2 separate regions of the Homo sapiens genome follow, and region 2 is linked to region 1. Evidence: fine-mapped expression QTL. A gene starts in region 1. The other region holds a variant in brackets. All regions are shown on one strand. Distances are from middle to middle.

What was found. PIP is the estimated chance that this variant, and not a neighbour inherited with it, causes the effect.
Region 2: its variant is fine-mapped to the expression of TFPT in whole blood (INTERVAL, PIP 0.93).

The regions. Positions count from the first base shown.
Region 1 is chr19:54,111,010-54,119,351 of GRCh38, reverse strand. It overlaps TFPT (TCF3 fusion partner), which reads left to right and starts at 3,695. Exons shown (of 6, transcript NM_013342.4): 1 at 3,695-4,105; 2 at 4,652-4,910. The coding sequence starts at 4,083. PRPF31 (pre-mRNA processing factor 31) reads right to left here and starts at 3,598. Exons shown (of 14, transcript NM_015629.4): 1 at 3,555-3,598; 2 at 897-1,081; 3 at 719-779. The coding sequence starts at 1,073. RefSeq lists an enhancer at 4,536-5,409.
Region 2 is chr19:54,043,280-54,051,498 of GRCh38, reverse strand. It overlaps VSTM1 (V-set and transmembrane domain containing 1), which reads left to right. Exons shown (of 9, transcript NM_198481.4): 4 at 51-89. Among named protein-coding and RNA genes, the nearest start is that of VSTM1, 17 kb to the left of the region's middle. The variant C/T (reference allele first, on the strand shown) is at 3,471.

The sequences.
Region 1 (8,342 bases):
GGAGTGCAGTGGCACGATCTCGGCTCACTGCAAGCTCCGCCTCCCAGGTTCACGCCATTCTCCCGCCTCAGCCTCCTGAGTAGCTGGGACTACAGGCACCCGCCACCACGCCTGGCTAATTTTTTGTATTTTTAGTAGAGACGGGGTGTCACCGTGTTAGCCAGGATGGTCTCGATCTCCTGAACTCATGATCCACCTGCCTCCGCCTCCCAAAGTGCTGGGATTACAGGCGTGAGCCACGGCGCCCGGCCTTAGGTGGTTCCTAAATAATTATATATCTATTTTTATACAGTGACTTTGTCTTTGCCAAATGATACCAGTTTTCCATTCATGGTAGCAATTTGCTTCCTTCTCAGATAAATTTAAGAAAAAAAGTCCTAGACTCAAAGAATATGTTAAGCAAATAATAGGATAAGCGGCTTATAGATGTGGCAAAAACCCTGTAACCGGTCATGTGAATCAGTGAAGTCTGGGAAACCTCAAGCTGAGTCCTATCATGATCAGTAAGCTCAGCACACAGGAAGGACTTAAGAAGCATGAGCTTTACAATGCAATATATATTTAGTGGAAAAGGGAACGGGTTGGGGTGAAACAAAAAAAAAAGAAGGCTCTGGAAAAGGCTGAGAAGGAGATATACCCAGCCACAAGCAGCCAGGGAGCCAGGGGGCCTGGCAGGAGAGACAGGAGATGGGGAGGGGCACAGAGTGGGAGGAAGCACCTTCTGAAGCTTTGGCTTGCTTGCTGATATACTCCTCAATCTTCATCATAATCTCAGCAAACTGTAGGAAAGGAGAAGACAGTCAGAATCCAGCACTCTTCAAAAAGAAGCCTGTATCACCCCCTTCTGGGAGATTCTGTCTAGAGCCCCCTGCTAGGAACACCTCTTGTCCTCTTACCATCTTACTATCCCATAGCTTGGCGATGGTCTTGACTGAATCCCCGGAAAGATCCAGCTGTGTCTCCTCCTGCACATCCTCGATCGCTGGCTCCTCTTCTTCCTCCCCATAGCTTCCTCCTTCCTCCTCTTCTGCTGCCTCTTCGAGATCAGCTAAGAGCTCATCTGCCAGAGACATCCCGAGGCCTGGGGAGGGACAGCAGCGTTCCCTAAAAACTTGCCCCGACAAAGTCCCTCCTTATTACTGAGCGATGATTCTCCCCCAGAAGACCCTGGTCCTTCTTTATCAACCCCACTAGCATGCAGGCTCCACGACAACAGGTGCTTTAGTTTGTTTTGTTCACTGGCGAGTCTCCAGCTCCGACCTGTGCAAGACGCAGCACACCCCTATGACCGCCACCTTGCTAAGACTTACTGGAACCAAGTGGTGTAGATTCCAAATGCATTTGCAAACTTTCTTATTCCTTTCTTGCCTTTAGCCTTGAAAACATACTTTGAAATTCTTTGTTTCCCTCCTTTCCCACTAGATACTGTCTTGCACTGCTGGCTTATCTATGTGCTTACTTAGAAGTTCCAGGGGCTAATCTTTATTTATTTATTTTTTAAAGATGGAGTCTGGCTCTGACACCCAGGTTGGAGTGCAGTGGCGCAGTCTTGGCTCACTTGCAACCTCCACCTCCTGGGTTCAAGCGATTCTCCTGCCTCAGCCTCCTGAGTAGCTGGGACTACAGGCACCTGCCACCATGCCCAGCTAATTTTTTTTTTTTTTTTTTGTAGAGTCAAGGTTTCACTATGTAAGCCAGGCTGGTCTTGAACTCTTGACCTCAAGTGAGCGACCCACCTTGGCCTCCCAAACTGTTGGGATTACAGGCGTAAGCCACCGCGCCTCGCCGCAGGGGCTAATCTTGAAACAAACTAGGTATGGAAACCCAGCTGCAAAACTCCAGAGATCACCTCAAGGCGATCAATCTACAACGTGGCCATTGTTGACTTGACACCAGCCCATGCTCCAGGTGGCCCGTGACTCAAGACAGCCTTCGGAGCAAGACACACATACCTTGTACCCAGCACCACTCCTGTATGCCTCCCATTCAAAGTTCCCCTTTTTAAGCCCCTCTCCCCAGCCTAAAGCTTGAAATGGTCTTCTAAAGACATTAGCTTGGCCATTTCTCATCTGCGAGCATTTGATCAGTAAAGCTGCTTTACTTTCACCACCCCCCACTTCCTCTGCCTCTGAGTAGCAGAAACTTGAGTTGGTTACATTATCGGTCTCTTCCCGCCTCCAGGTCTTTGTACAGGAGTCCCTTGTAACTAAAGTGGCCCTTTCCTTCACTTTGTTTTTTCTTTTCTTTTCTTTTTTTTGAGACCATGTCTTGCTCTGTCACCTAGGCTGCAGTGCAGTGGCGCCATCATAGCTCACGGCAGCCTCGATCACCTGGGCTCAAGCGATTCTCCCGCCTCAGCCTCCCGATAGCTGAGATGACAGGCACGCACCAGCACGCCCGGCTAATTTTTAAATTTTTCTGTAGAGACAGGGTCTCACTGTGTTGCTCAGGCTGGTCTCAAACTCCTGGGCTCAAGCGATCCTTTCGCCTGGGCCACCCAAAGTGCTGGGATTACAGGAGTGAGCCATGGCGTCTGGCTCTCCTCACTTCTTAGTAGCCCAGCATCTCCTCAGCCTTCAGCTCTCACGTTCCACCTCCCTGACCCACACGCCCCACTCTAGACTACAGGAGGTTGCTTTGTGATAACGTGTCCCGCACGCTCTGCGTGTCTACAGTAAGGCACTTCACACATTTGTGATTAATGAAGTAATTATTTGATAAAGCCTGTCTGCCAGGCATCAACCAAAGCTCTAAGAGGGTAGCGAACAATTTTTGCTCCTTCCACATCCCCAGGGCCACACCATGGTAGGCGCATATTAAGACTTTTGGGTAAACAGGCTGTAAAAGGCCGGGAGCGGTGGCTCATGCCTGTAATCCCAGCACTTTGGGAGGCCCAGGCGGGTGGATCATCTGAGGTCAGGAGTTGGAGACCAGCCTGGCCAACATAGTGAAACCCCGTCTCTACTAAAAATACAAAAAACTAGCCGGGCGTGGTGGTGCGCGCCTGTAATCCCAGCTACTCGGGAGGCTGAGGCAGGAGAATCGCTTGAATCCGGGAGGCGGAGGTTGCAGTGAACCGAGATCGCGCCACTGCACTCCAGCCTGGGCAACAAGAGCGAAACTCCGTCTCAGACAAAACAAACAAACAACTGGCCAGGCGCGGTGGATCATGCCTGTAATCACAGCACTTTGGGAGGCCGAGGCGGGCGGATCACGAGATCAGGAGTTCGAGACCAGCCTGACCAACATGGGGAAACCCCGTCTCTACTAAAAATACAAAAATTAGTCAGGGGTGGTGGCGGGCGCCTGTAATCCCAGCTACTCTGGAGGCTGAGGCAGAAGAATCGTTTGAACCCGGGAGACGGAGGTTGCAATGAGCCGAGATCGCGCCACTGCTCTCCAACCTGGGCAACAGAACGAGACTCCGTCTCAAAACAAACAAACAACAAAAAAACAAAAACCAAGCTGTAAAGACCCGCCTTTTTCCTCACACACTTCTTCTCCCAGACCCAGGAGCCCAGCCTCCCGCTCCCCGTGGTCCCCATCACACTCACCTCTCCTCTCCGCGCACCACTGTTTCTAGCGTTAGTCGCTCACCGATGACGTCTCACTCTCGCGCCGTTATAGAGGCAAAGCTACTCTCTGATTGGTCCCCGCTCGCGATGTTCCTGGCCGCATTTGAAACAACAACTTTATTAGCACCTGGCACTAGGCGGAGAGAGGCGGTAAGCCGCGAGGAGGAAAGGGACTCACGTCCCGCTGTGGACCGATCCTGCTAAGCAGAGAATCGCTGTGGCCGGACGACGGGGCGTCGAGACAAGAAGAAAGACGTTGGCAACTCAGAGGACTGGTTGCGGCGTTAGACAAGAAAGCAAGGCCTTTAAGCAGGGATTCGGGGTGGACGTGGGGGTGGGCCGAAGCGAAGCCGGAAACAGGAAACTACAACTCCCACAAGGCCTAGGGCCACGTCCCGCCGTCCTCGGCTGCTGAGCCTGATGGGACAAGTAGTTTTGCGAACGGCTTAACCTACAGATTGAAGAGGTCGGAAGCTCTGAGGCCCGGGGCTTCCGGAGGTCGCGGAGATGGAATTGGAGCAGAGAGAAGGGTATGTGGCTGAGCCCTTGTGAAAAAGTGCGAATCCCAGAAAACAGTGCAGCTGCATTGTGTGCAACCATATGAGCTTTTACGCTGAGGTCTGATGGGGGTTGTAGTTCATGCAACTGCTTTACCTTAGAACCCTTTTATGGACTGGGGTCATCCTGAGGGAGGAGAAGGTTAGGGGTTTGGACTGCTGGATCTGACAGACTAGGAGGTTGGAAGCCAGGACTCTTGCGTCTGGTTGAGGGTTGGGGCTTGGACTCCCTGGGTCCTTGGAGAGAAAAAGTCTGGAGGTCTGGACTCTTGCATCCTGGGAGGAGGGGGTCAGGGCTTGAACCCTGTGGGTGCTGCGAAGGGTGGGTTGCGGACTTGGACTTCTGGGTCTGAGGGAGGAGGGCTGGGAGCTGGATTCTACGGTCTGAGGGAGGAGGGGCTGGGGGCCTGGATTCTAGGATCTCAGGGAGGAGGGGTTGGGGTCTGGGCTCCTGGTTCAGTGGGAGAAGGGGCTGGGGGTCCAGGATCCAGGGCCCCTGAGCCTTTCCCTGCCTCTCAGGACCATGGCAGCCGTGGGCTTTGAGGAGTTCTCAGCGCCGCCAGGCTCAGAGTTGGCGTTGCCTCCCCTATTTGGTGGCCACATCCTGGAGAGCGAGCTGGAGACGGAAGTGGAGTTTGTGTCAGGTGGTCTGGGCGGCTCAGGGCTCCGGGAGCGAGATGAAGAGGAAGAGGCAGCCCGGGGTCGGCGGCGGCGCCAGCGGGAATTAAATCGCAGAAAGTACCAGGCACTAGGTCGGCGCTGCCGGGAGATCGAGCAGGTAGGTGAGTGCGGATCCCCCGGTTTTGGGGTCCCCTGGCCTAAACTACCGCCCCCCGCAATCTCTGCCTTTCCACATGCCCAGCCTTTCTTGGCTTGCTGATATATTCAGTCATTTAGCTTATATATTCAGTCATTTAGCATGCATTATGTGTCTGGCCCTGTGCCGGGCCCCTGGAAGGGCCATCTCCCGTGGAGCTTCCCTGACAACGCAGATGGGTTCTCTGATGTCTCCCGGGGGCCTCTCAATGCGTGGCACCGCTCACAGGTGAAAGCCCAAGCTCTTCACATCTCCCATACCCCTGCCAGGATTCACTCCTCTCGACTCATTCATTCCGCCTCTTGAGTGTCTCTGGACCCTTCTCCTCTCCTCCATCCCTATGGCTGCCATTGCAAACTCCAGCTGTCTGGGCTGAATGACTGCAATAGCCTCCTTGCTGAGAATAAGGATGGGCTGGGCATGGTGGCTCACGCTTGTAATCCTAGCACTGGGAGGCTGAGGCAGGCGGATCACCTGAGGTTAGGAGTTCGAGACCAGCCTGGCCAACATGGTGAAACCCCATCTCTACTAAAATACAAAAAAATTAGCCAGGTGTGGTGGTGCGCACCTGTAGTCGCAGCTACTAGGGAGGCTGAGGCATGAGAATTGCTTGAACCCGGAAGGCGGAGGTTGCAGTGAGCCAAGATCATGCTGCTGTACTCCAGCCTGGGTGACAGAGTGAGACTCCGTCTCAAAATCAATCAATCAATCAATGAGGATTAAACAGCAGGCAGGGCTCAGATCTTGGCAGGCCAGGAACACCAGGACAAGAAGTCTGGATATTTTTTTTTCCTTGAGAGTGAAGGAGCCACTGAAGGGTTTCAAATGGGGGAGGAACAGCATCAGGTCTGGATGCCTGAAACTCTGAAGACAGTTGTATTAGTCTGCTTGGACTCCCAGAACTTATCACAAATAGGGTCCCTCAAGCACAGAAATTCCTGTCTGACAGTTCTGGAGGCTAGACATCCAAGGCAAGGTGTCGACAGGGTTGTGAGAATCTTCCAGGCCTCTCCCCTGGCTTCTGGAGGTTTCTGGCAGTCATTGGCACGTACAAACATCACCCTGATCTCCGCCTTCATCTTCACATTGCTGCTCCCTGTGTGTGTGTCTGTGTCCCAATTTACCCTTTTTATAAGGACTCCAGTCATACTGGATTAGGGCCCACCCACTGGCTTCATTTGAACTTGATTACTTTTGTAACGACACTGTCTCCATATAAGGTGATCCTGAGGTACTGGGGGTTAAAGCCTCAACACCCTCTTTTGGGGGAAATAATTCAACTTTTTTTTTTTTTTTTTTTTTTTTTTTTGAGGTGGAGTCTCGCTCTTGTCTCCCAGGCTGGAGTGCAATGGCACCATCTCAGCTCACTGTAACCTCCACCTCCTGGGTTCAAGTGATTCTCCTGACTCAGCCTCCCTAGTAGCTGGGATTACAGGCGCCCGCCACCACACCCAGCTAATTTTTCTATTTTTAGTAGAGACAGGGTTTCACCATGTTGGTCAGGCTGGTCTCAAACTCCTGACCTCAGGTGATCTGCCCACCTCAGCCTCCCAAGGTGCTGGGATTACAGGCTTGAGCCACCACGCCTGGCCTTCAACTCTTTTTCTCTTTCTTGAGACAGGTTCTCACTTTGTCACCAAAGCTGGAGTGCAGTGGCGCAATCTCAGCTCATTGCAGCCTCAGTCTCCCAGGTTCAAGCAGTCCTCCTGCCTCAGCCCCCAAAATAGCTGGGACTACAGGCACACACCACCACACCTGGCTAATTTTTGTACTTTTTGTAGAGATGGGGTTTTGCCATGTTGCCCAGGCTGGTCTTGAACTCCTGACCTCAAGTGATCCACTCGCCTTGACCTCCCAAAATGCTAGGATTACAGGCATGAGCCACCACATCTGGCCTCAATTCTTAATGACAGTATTGGGGAGTTCTGTAAGGAGGAAGGCTAGAGGCCAGGGGCATATTCCAAACCCTGTTTAACAGACAGACACCAAGGCCCAAACGGACTCAACTGGAGCCTCTGCCATTAATCCACCCCCAGGAATAGATTACTACTATTTTACAAGTATAGAAAATCAAGGCTCAGAGAGGTTAAGTAATGCACCCAAGCTCAGAGCTCAGCAGTGGCAGATCTGAGATTTTTTTTTTTTTTTTGAGACAGGGTCTTTCTCTGTTGCCCAGGCTGGAGTGCAGTGGCATGACTGTGGCTCACTGCAGCCCCAACATCCTGGACTCTAGCAATCTCAGCCTCCGAAGGAGCTGGGACTACAGCCACCAAGCCCAGCTAATTTTTTTGGTTAGTTTTTGAGTGTTGGGGTCTCACTCTGTTGCCCAGGCTGGTGTCGAACTCCTGGCCTCTCAAAGTGCTGGGATTATAGGCATGAGCCACTGTGCCAAGCCAGAGCCAAAACTTGAACTCTTTTTTTTTAGATGGATTTTCGCTCTTGTTGTCCAGGCTGGAGTGCAATGCTGCAATCTCAGCTCACTGCAACCTCCGCCTCCTGGGTTCAAGCGATTCTCCTGCCTCAGCCTCCCGAGTAGCTGGGATTACAGGCATGCGCCACTACACCTGGCTAATTTTGTATTTTTAGTAGAGACAGGGTTTCACCACGTTAGGCTGGTCTCAAACTCCTGACCTCAGGTGATCCGCTCGCCTTGGCCTCTGAAAGTGCTGGGATTACAAGCGTGAGCCACCGTGCCTGGCACTTTTTTTTTTTTTTTTTCTTTTGAGACAGAGTCTTACTCTGTCACCCAGGCTGGAGGGCAGTGGTGTGATCTCGGCTCACTGCAACCTCCAGCTCCTGGGTTCAAGCGATTCTCCTGCCTCAGCCTCCTGAGAAACTGGGATTACAGGCATGCGCCACCATACCCAGCTAATTTTTGTATTTTTCTTTTTTTTTTTTTTTTTTTAGTAGAGATGAGGTCTCATCATGTTGGCCGGGCTGGTCTGCAACTCCCGACCTCAAACTCTTGAGTAGCTGAGATTACAGGCATGTGCCACAACATCCGGCCAATTTTTGTATCTTTAGTAGAGACGGGGTTTCACCATGTTGGCCAGGCTGGTCTTGAACTCCTGACCTCAAGTGATCTGCCCGCCCCGGCCTCCCAAAGTGCTGGGATTACAGGCGTGAGCCACTGTGCCCCGCCCGGAACTCAGGTCTTTCTGACCCAGGAGCAGCACCTGCTTCAGCCACTGTCTTTGGGTCCCTGTTTGGCTGAGTCACATCTCTCCCTCCATGTCTAGGCTGGAGTCCTCAGAAGCTGCGTGCAGGGCTGTCCCCTCAGCCTGGCATACTTTCCTCCTGTCACCCCTTTGTCTCCTCCTTATTCAAGTCTGGGCCCACGGGCCTTCTCTGCAGGTCGTAACTAAAGTCGCACCTCCTGCCCTAACCTCCAGC
Region 2 (8,219 bases), 68 kb after region 1:
AGGTTCCTGTATGATTAGTGTAATTCCTTTTCTTCCCTCCTATTTTCTAGATAAACACGATGAACTTGAAGCTCCCTCAATGAAAACAGGTAAGATAATTAGAAAGGAGATGTTTTTCCCAATGAGATCTGCTTCATGATCACCTTTGCTTAAAGTGCACAAGGAGAACTTTATTTATTTGTTTGTTTGTTTGTTTGTTTGTTTTTTGAGATAGAGTCTCGCTTTGTCACCAAGGCTGGAGTACAGTGGCGCAATCTCAGCTCACTGCAACCTTCGCCTCCCGGATTCAAGCAATTTTCCTGCCTCAGCCTCCCGAATAGCTGGGACTACAGGCACGCACCACCACACCCAGCTAATTTTTGTATTTTTAGTAGAGACGGGGTTTCACCATGTTGGCCAGGCTGGTCTCGAACTCCTGACCTTGTGATCTGCCCGCCTCAGCCTCCCAAAGTGCTGGGATTACAGGCGTGAGCCACCGCACACGGCCTATTTATTTTTTTGAGAAAGAGTCTTGTTCTGTCCCCCAGGGTGGCGTGAAGTGGCACAATCTCAGCTCACTGCAACCTCCACTTCCTGGGTTCTGGGTTCAAGCAATTCTCCTGCCTCGGCCTCCCGAATAGCTGGGATTACAGGCACCCACCACCATATCCAGCTCAGTTTTGTTTTTTGTTTTTTGTTTTTAGTAGAGATGGGGTTTCACCATGTTGGCCAGGCTGGTATCAAACTCCTGACCTCAAGCAATTCCCCCGCCTCGGCCTCTCAAAGTGTTGGGATTACAGGCATGAGCCACCGCACCCGGCCTAGAAGAACTTTAAAGCCCATTTTCTCAATGTTATTGGGGAAACTGCTGTGTTTTGGGGGGTGGAGGATGAGGGGAGATAACCTCTAAAGTGCTTCCGGGTTCTGAAGAAGCTGGTGTGTAAAACAGCACAGAGTGCGTTGTTTGCCATATGACATGATGAAAAACTAGGGTGGGATTTGGGGAATAATGGGGGTGAATTTTTCAGTGACCCATTTGGGGAGTAGGACCAGGACCTACGCAGAGTAGGTACTTCAGGAATATATATAATCAAGAGTTTGTTATAACTCTAAAATTCTCAAAAATAGGTGAATATTGAATTTTTTTTCTAATGTTGCTTATTCATTAACAATTGACTAAGATTCTGTCCTCAGAGTTTCTCATAAAAATTAGAGCTTTTGGGCCAGGCGAGGTGGCTCACATCTGTAATCCCAGCACTTTGGGAGGCCGAGGTGGGCGGATCACCTGAGGTCAGGAGTTCGAAACCAGCCTGGGCAACATGGTGAAACCCTGTCTCTACTAAAAATACAAAAATTTGCTGGGCATTGTGGTGGGCGCCTGTATTCCCAGCTACTCAAGTGACTGAGGCAGGAGAATTGCTTGAACCTGGGAGGCAGAGGTTGCAGTGAGCCGAGATTACACCACTGCCCTCCAGCCTGGGCAACAGAGTGAGACTCTGTCTCCAAAAAAAAAAAAAAAAAAAAAAAATTAAAAAGTTAGAGCTTTTGGCAGCATTCGGCTGAAACAGGAACTCATCCAGACTTTAAGGGCCAAATGCAGAATATAAATTGGCATCTAGATGCTTAATCATCCTTCCTTTCAGCAAGTCATAATCTTCCTGCAACCTACTCCAAAGAGCCAAAGTTGCTGAAGGTTGTTGCTAGCAGTCTGTGCTGGTATAATCGGTTTTCAAAAAGGTATCCTCCAAAGTGTTCTTGCAAGATAACTATTTGAAACGTTTTTATTCCATGATAGTAGGCTTGGGAAATGTCTGCTACCCTAGCACTACGAACACAATTCACGTCAGGAACGTTTTCTGAGAAAGATATGAAATCTAATGGGAGAGAGGAACACAGAAGTATCAGAAACGAGGTGGGAGATCTAGTGAGGTGTGAGGGGGAGGAGGAAGAGAAGCTTTTCTATTTTGAGCTCTTGTATCATTTATTTTCTTTCTTTTTTTATTGATATATAATTCACAGTCCAAAAATTCACCCTTGTAAAGTGTCCAATTCACTGGCATTTTGTATCTTCATGAGGTAGTATAACCATCACCACTACATAATTCCAGAACATTCTCATCACCCTAAAAGAAAATCTTGTACCCATTAAGCAGTCACTCCTCATTTCCCACTTTCCCACCAGGCCCTTCCAACCATTCATATGCTTCTCTGTGTCTATGATTTTGTCTATTCTGGACATTTTGTGTAAGTGGATTCATACACTATGTGATCCTTTGTGACTAGCTCCTTTCTCTTTAGCATAATGTTTTCAAAGTTTGTCTGTACTGTAGCATGCATCAATGTTTCATTTCTTGTCATGGTGAAAAGCATCGTATTGTATGGATAGACCACATTTTGCTTATCCATTCTTTTTTTTGTTTTTGTTTTTGTTTTTTTGAGACGGAGTCTTGCTCTGTCGCCCAGGCTGGAGTGCAGTGGCACAATCTCAGCTCACTGCAACCTCCGCCTCCCAGGTTTAAGTGATTCTTTTGCCTTAACCTCCTGAGTAGCTGGACCTACAGGCGCCCGTCACCATGCCTAGCTAATTTGTGTATTTTTAGTAGAGAGGGGGTTTCACCATGTTGGCTAGGCTGGTCTCGAACTCCTGACCTCAGGTGATCCACACGCCTCAGCTTCCCAAAGTGCTGGGATTACAGACTTGAGCTACTGTGCCTGGCCCCGTTCTTCTTTTGATGGACATTTGTGTTGTCTGCACCTCTTGGCTAAAGCGAGTAATGGTGCTGGAACACTGTGGTAGGAGTATCTGTTTGTCTCCGCGCTGTAAATTATCTTGAGTATGTACCTAGAAGTGGATTTGCTAGGACATATGGTGACTATTATGTTCAACTTTTTGAGGAACTGCCAAATCATTTTCCATTGTGGCTGTATCATGTTATATTCCTTCCAGTAATATATGTGGGTTCCAATATCTCCACATCCTTGTCAACACTTACTTTTCTTTTTTTAAATTATAGCCATCCCAGTGGGTATTATATAATTTCTTAAAATGTACTTTTTGAGTTCAAATTTGTATCATCACAATTCTAAACAGAATAAAATATCTTTGCCGGGCGCAGTGGCTCACGTCTGTAATACCAGGACTTTGGGAAGATGAGGCAGGAGGATCACTTGAGCCCAGGGGTTCAAGACCAGCCTGGACAACTTGGTAAGATCCCATCTCTACAAAAAATACAAAAATTAGCCAGGCGTGGTGGTGTGCACCTGTAGTCCCAGCTACTTGGGAGGCTCAGGCAGAAAGATCGTTTGCGCCCAGGAGGTTGAGGCTTCAGTGAACTGTGATTGCGCCACAGCACTCCAGCCTGGGTGACAGAGCGAGACCCTGTTTCAGTAAATAAATAAAATAAAAGTAAAATATCTGTAAGCACAGGTATGATGTCCCCAGCCTGTATTTATATGCCTAAAACACACTAGAAAACGACTCTATGTTCAAT[C/T]GCAATGTAGAGAATGAAGATGAATTTTATCACACAAGACTTGACTTTCTTTCTGGTGCCTGTGCCTCCATTTATGCCCCGTGTCAGGCTGTATCTTGTTGCTCACGCTGACTTTAGTAGCGTAGCAAGTTATGATTTATTCTGGCAATTTGCAAATACTGATGCAACATTTGGCCAGGATCTGTGGACATCTCAGGGTGAACCCAGTTCAGCTGATTATGGGGTCATATGAAGATGAGAATTTTGCAATAATGTACTTCTCATTTCTAGTGAATTGCTGTGTGAAAGATACCGTAGGCTGGAAAAGGGGAGAACAGAAAGGACAAGGCAAGGCTGCTGTTTCTCTGCTTCCATCTGGGGAAACTGAGAGTCCAGGAGCAGCTGTTCCTGCCCTGTTTTCATAAGTCCTTGGAGATGCACTGATAGAATTGTTGCTTATGGCCAGGCATGGTGGCTTATGTAATCCCAGCACTTTGGGAGGCCAAAGTGGGCAGAACACTTGAGCTCTGGAGTTTGAGACCAGCCTAACCAACATGGTGAAACCTCATCTCTACTAGAAATATAAAAAATTAGCGGGGTGAGGTGGCGGGTGCTTGTAATCCCAGCTCCTTGGGAGGCTGAGGCAGGAGAATTGCTTGAACCCCAGAGGGGGAGGTTCCAAAGCCGAGATTGTACCACTGCACTCCAGCCTGGGAGACAGAGTGAGACTGTCTCAAAAAAAAAAAAATTGTTGCTTTTGAGGGGTTCTCTGATTCAGCTCCACCAGAAGCAGGCTCTTAGACAGCATTAGTGTGAAAGTGACGTTTTATTTTATTTATTATTTATTTAGTTTTGAGACAGAGTTTCGCTCTTGTTGCCCAGGCTGGAGTGCAATGGCGTGATCTTGGCTCACTGCAACCTCCGCCTACCAGGTTCAAGAGATTCTCCTGCCTCAGCCTCCCAAATAGCTGGGATTACAGGCATGCACCACCACACCCAGCTAATATTCTATTTTTAGTAGAGACGGGGTTTCTCCATGTTGGTCAGGCTGGTCTCGAACTCCTGACCTCAGGTGCTCTGCCTGCCTCGACCTCCCAAAGTGCTGGGATTACAGGTGTGAGCCACCACGCCTGGCTTGAAAATTACATTTTAGGGAGTGGGGAAGAAGGGCTGGGAGGAAAATAGATTAAACAAGTGTGGGATATCTGTGTCCCTCAGATGGTATCTTTGGCTCCATCCTGCAGAAAGCAGTGGAGACAGAGAAGGTCGAAGACCAGAGGCTAGGGAGCTGGGGTCCCCACAGCCGTCAGTGGCAGTTTGTCCCGGGCATGTAAATTCCAAGGCATTTGGAGTTCTCCCAGGCAGTCCCCCAAAGAAGAGATACAAATGTTCACTTTGGAAAGGGAAAGAAGCCACGATCTAGAATGCATAAAAATGGGAAAGGGATCTGGGGAACATGGGTTGAGGAACATTGACAGAATCTATTACAGAGAGAGATGGGTGTAGGTGGAATATTGGGTGAAAAAAAATCATCATTATACCTACAATCCCATTATCCGACACAATGAGTCAGTTTCTAGACTGAGCGCTTTAAAGCCAGGATTTTTCATCATTACCTAACTCTTCAAGTTAGATATTATTAGCTCTCTGCCCCCTCCTTATATTTAACCAAAAAATAACGTATTCCAGAAAGGGAAGGGAACATTTACAAAGTCAGGAGGTAGGAGACCCAGTACTAGAACTCAAATATGTCTTGTTTCAAACTCCCCACTCCTTTTGCTGCTCCCTGATGATCAGCTCAGAAAGAACCTTATTTCAGGGAGGGGGATAGATAGATAATTAGATGTGATAGATAATAGGCAAGTAGGCAGATAAATAGATAACTAGATATGATAGATTAGATAGATACATAGATGATAGGTAGATAAGTAGCTAGATACGATGGACAGATTAGATAGATAGACAGATGATAGGTAAGTAGGTAGATAGATAACTAGATACAACAGGTTAGATAAGTAAGTAGATAGATAACTAGATATGATAGATTAGATAGATAAATAGACGATAGGTAAGTAGGTAGATAGATACAGATAGATTAGCTAGCTAGCTAGATGATAGATAACTAGATATAATAGATAAGATAGATGATTAGATAGACAGATAATTAGATATGATTGATAGATACATTAGATAGATGATAGATTAGATAGATAGATGATAGGTAACTAGGTAGCTAGATAAAGCTAGCTAGATAGATAGATAGATATACAGATACACAGATAGATACATAGATACCTAGATAGGTGATAGAGTTGCAAGATAGAAAAATTAGATAAGTAGGTGGATAGATAGATAGATAACTAGATAGAATAGATTAAATAGATAATAGTAGGTGAATAGACAGATACATACAGATGATAGATGATAGATGATAGATAACTGGTTATGATTGATAGATACATTAGATAGATGATAGATTTGGTAACTAGATGATAGGTAAGTCGGTAGATAGATAAGTGATAATTAGATATGATAGGATGGATAGATTAGACAGACAGCAGGTAAGCAGGTGGATAGACAGATAAAGATAGATACATAGATGCCTAGATAAGTGATAGATTAACAAGATAGAAAAATTAGACAGACAGATAGTTAATTACATATGATAGGATAGATAGATTGGATAGGTGATAGGCAAGTAGGTAGATAGATAAATCATAATTAGATAGGACGGATAGATTGGATAGATGATAGGTAAGTAGGTACAGAGACAGATAAAGATAGATAGGTAGATAGATAATAGATACCTAGACAGATGGTAGATAGATTAGCGAGATAGATAAATTAGATAGGTAATTCTCTATATATAGATATGTAGAAATGCCAATGCAAACATAGCGAACCAAGTAGGGGAAGCGTCTGGATGGGAGACCCTCTGTTGGTGCAGAGGACCAGGCGTGTGAAGCATCTCAGACTTGGCTCTGTAATGTGACCACAGATCATTGCACACCTAGGAAAAATTCTCAGACTCAAAGCACACTAACAAAGATAGCGGGGGTCTTGGTGAAGCCCCTTTCTGGGGCCTCACTTCTATAGTTGCTCAACTTTTTTCCTTAATCACGTTTCTGCTACTTACTCCTTAAAGTCTCACGACTTGTGTTTCTTGAATCTAAAGTGCCAAGAAAAACAAAAAACGGGGGGGAACTGCATGGACTCTGTCGCCTAGCTTTAGTAACAGGTTGCTCTCTCTTCCTCAACGCTGTGAGCTTTGGACACAACCCTTGCTGTAATCCCAGGAGTCACACGGGAATGCATGCCCTTCACCAGTGGGAGGGAAATAATTGTACTACCTTGCAGGGTTGTTGTTAAGACTTTAAAACGCTATGATGTAGACTTGCATGGCAATATTGCTCAAGAACTAGTTTTTTTTGTTTTGTTTTGTTTTTGTTTTTTAATTGGTAGAAATTTTATCTCCTGAGAGGGATGCTTTTTTGAGTTGGAGTCTTGGTCAGTTGAGTGTATGATGCAGTGATGCGATCTCGGCTCACTGCAACCTCCGCCTCCCAGGTTCAAGCAATTCTCTTCTCTCAGCCTCCTGAGTAGCTGGGACTACAGGCGTGCGCCACCATGCCCAGCTTATTTTTTATATTTTCAGTAGAGACAGGGTTTCACCATGTTGGCCAGGCTGGTCTCGAACTCCAGACCTCAAGTGATCCACCTACTTCACTCTCCCAAAGTGCCAGGATTACAGGCGTGAGCCACCGTGCCCGGCCACTGGTCATTCTTTTCTACCCTGCTCTAACCCTGTTCTTATTAGGAATCCTCCCTGAATTCTCCCAGCTGATCCCTTGTTCTGTGTCTTGGGGAATCATGTCTCCTTCAGAGAGCCCCACCCCTCCCCACTCTAAACGCCTTCCATGCCCGTGTCACTGCTGTTCATTACCTGGCATCAACGAGCTCATTGAAGTGTGTTTGAAGTTGGCTGGGCGTGGTGGTCTGTACTCCCAGCTACCCTGGAGGCCGAGTGAGGAGGACCACTTGAGCCCAGGAATTCGAGTATGATCACACCACTGCACTCTAGCCTGGGCAACAATGGGAACCCATTGGCACATCTGGGATTGGCATCCTGAGCTCCCATCTGTGACCTCCCTCCTCTCCCCTCCTCTCCCCTCCATTGCCCTCACCCTCTCCCCATAATCTTCACATCCCGTCCTTTCACATCTCTCTCTCTCCTTTAAAAAAAGAAAAAGGAAATATGTTTGAAGTTAAGAGCTGAGATCATGTCTGTGTTAGCCAGGGTTTTCCAGAAAAACAGAACCAATAGAACATATAGATATAAGCTGGGTGTGGTGGCTCACGCCTGTAATCCCAGCACTTTGGGAGGCCGAGGCAGGCAGATTGCCTGAGGTCAGTAGTTCAAGACCAGCGTGGCCAACATGGCGAAACCCCGTCTCTACTAAAAATACAAAAATTAGCCGGGCGTGATGGTGGGCACCTGTAATCCCAGCTACTCAGGAGGCTAAGGCAGGAGAATTGCTTGAACCCGGGAGGCGGAGCTTGCAGTGAGCCAAGATTGCACTATTGCACTCCAGCCTGGACGATAAGAGTGAGACTTTGTCTCAAAAAAAAAAAAGAGAACATATACATGTATATACATATATGGAGAGAGAGATTGATTTTAATGGATTGGTTCACGTGATTGTGGGGAGCTGGCAAGTCTGAAATCTGCAGGGCAGGCAGGCAGGGGATCCAGGGGAGACTTGATATTGC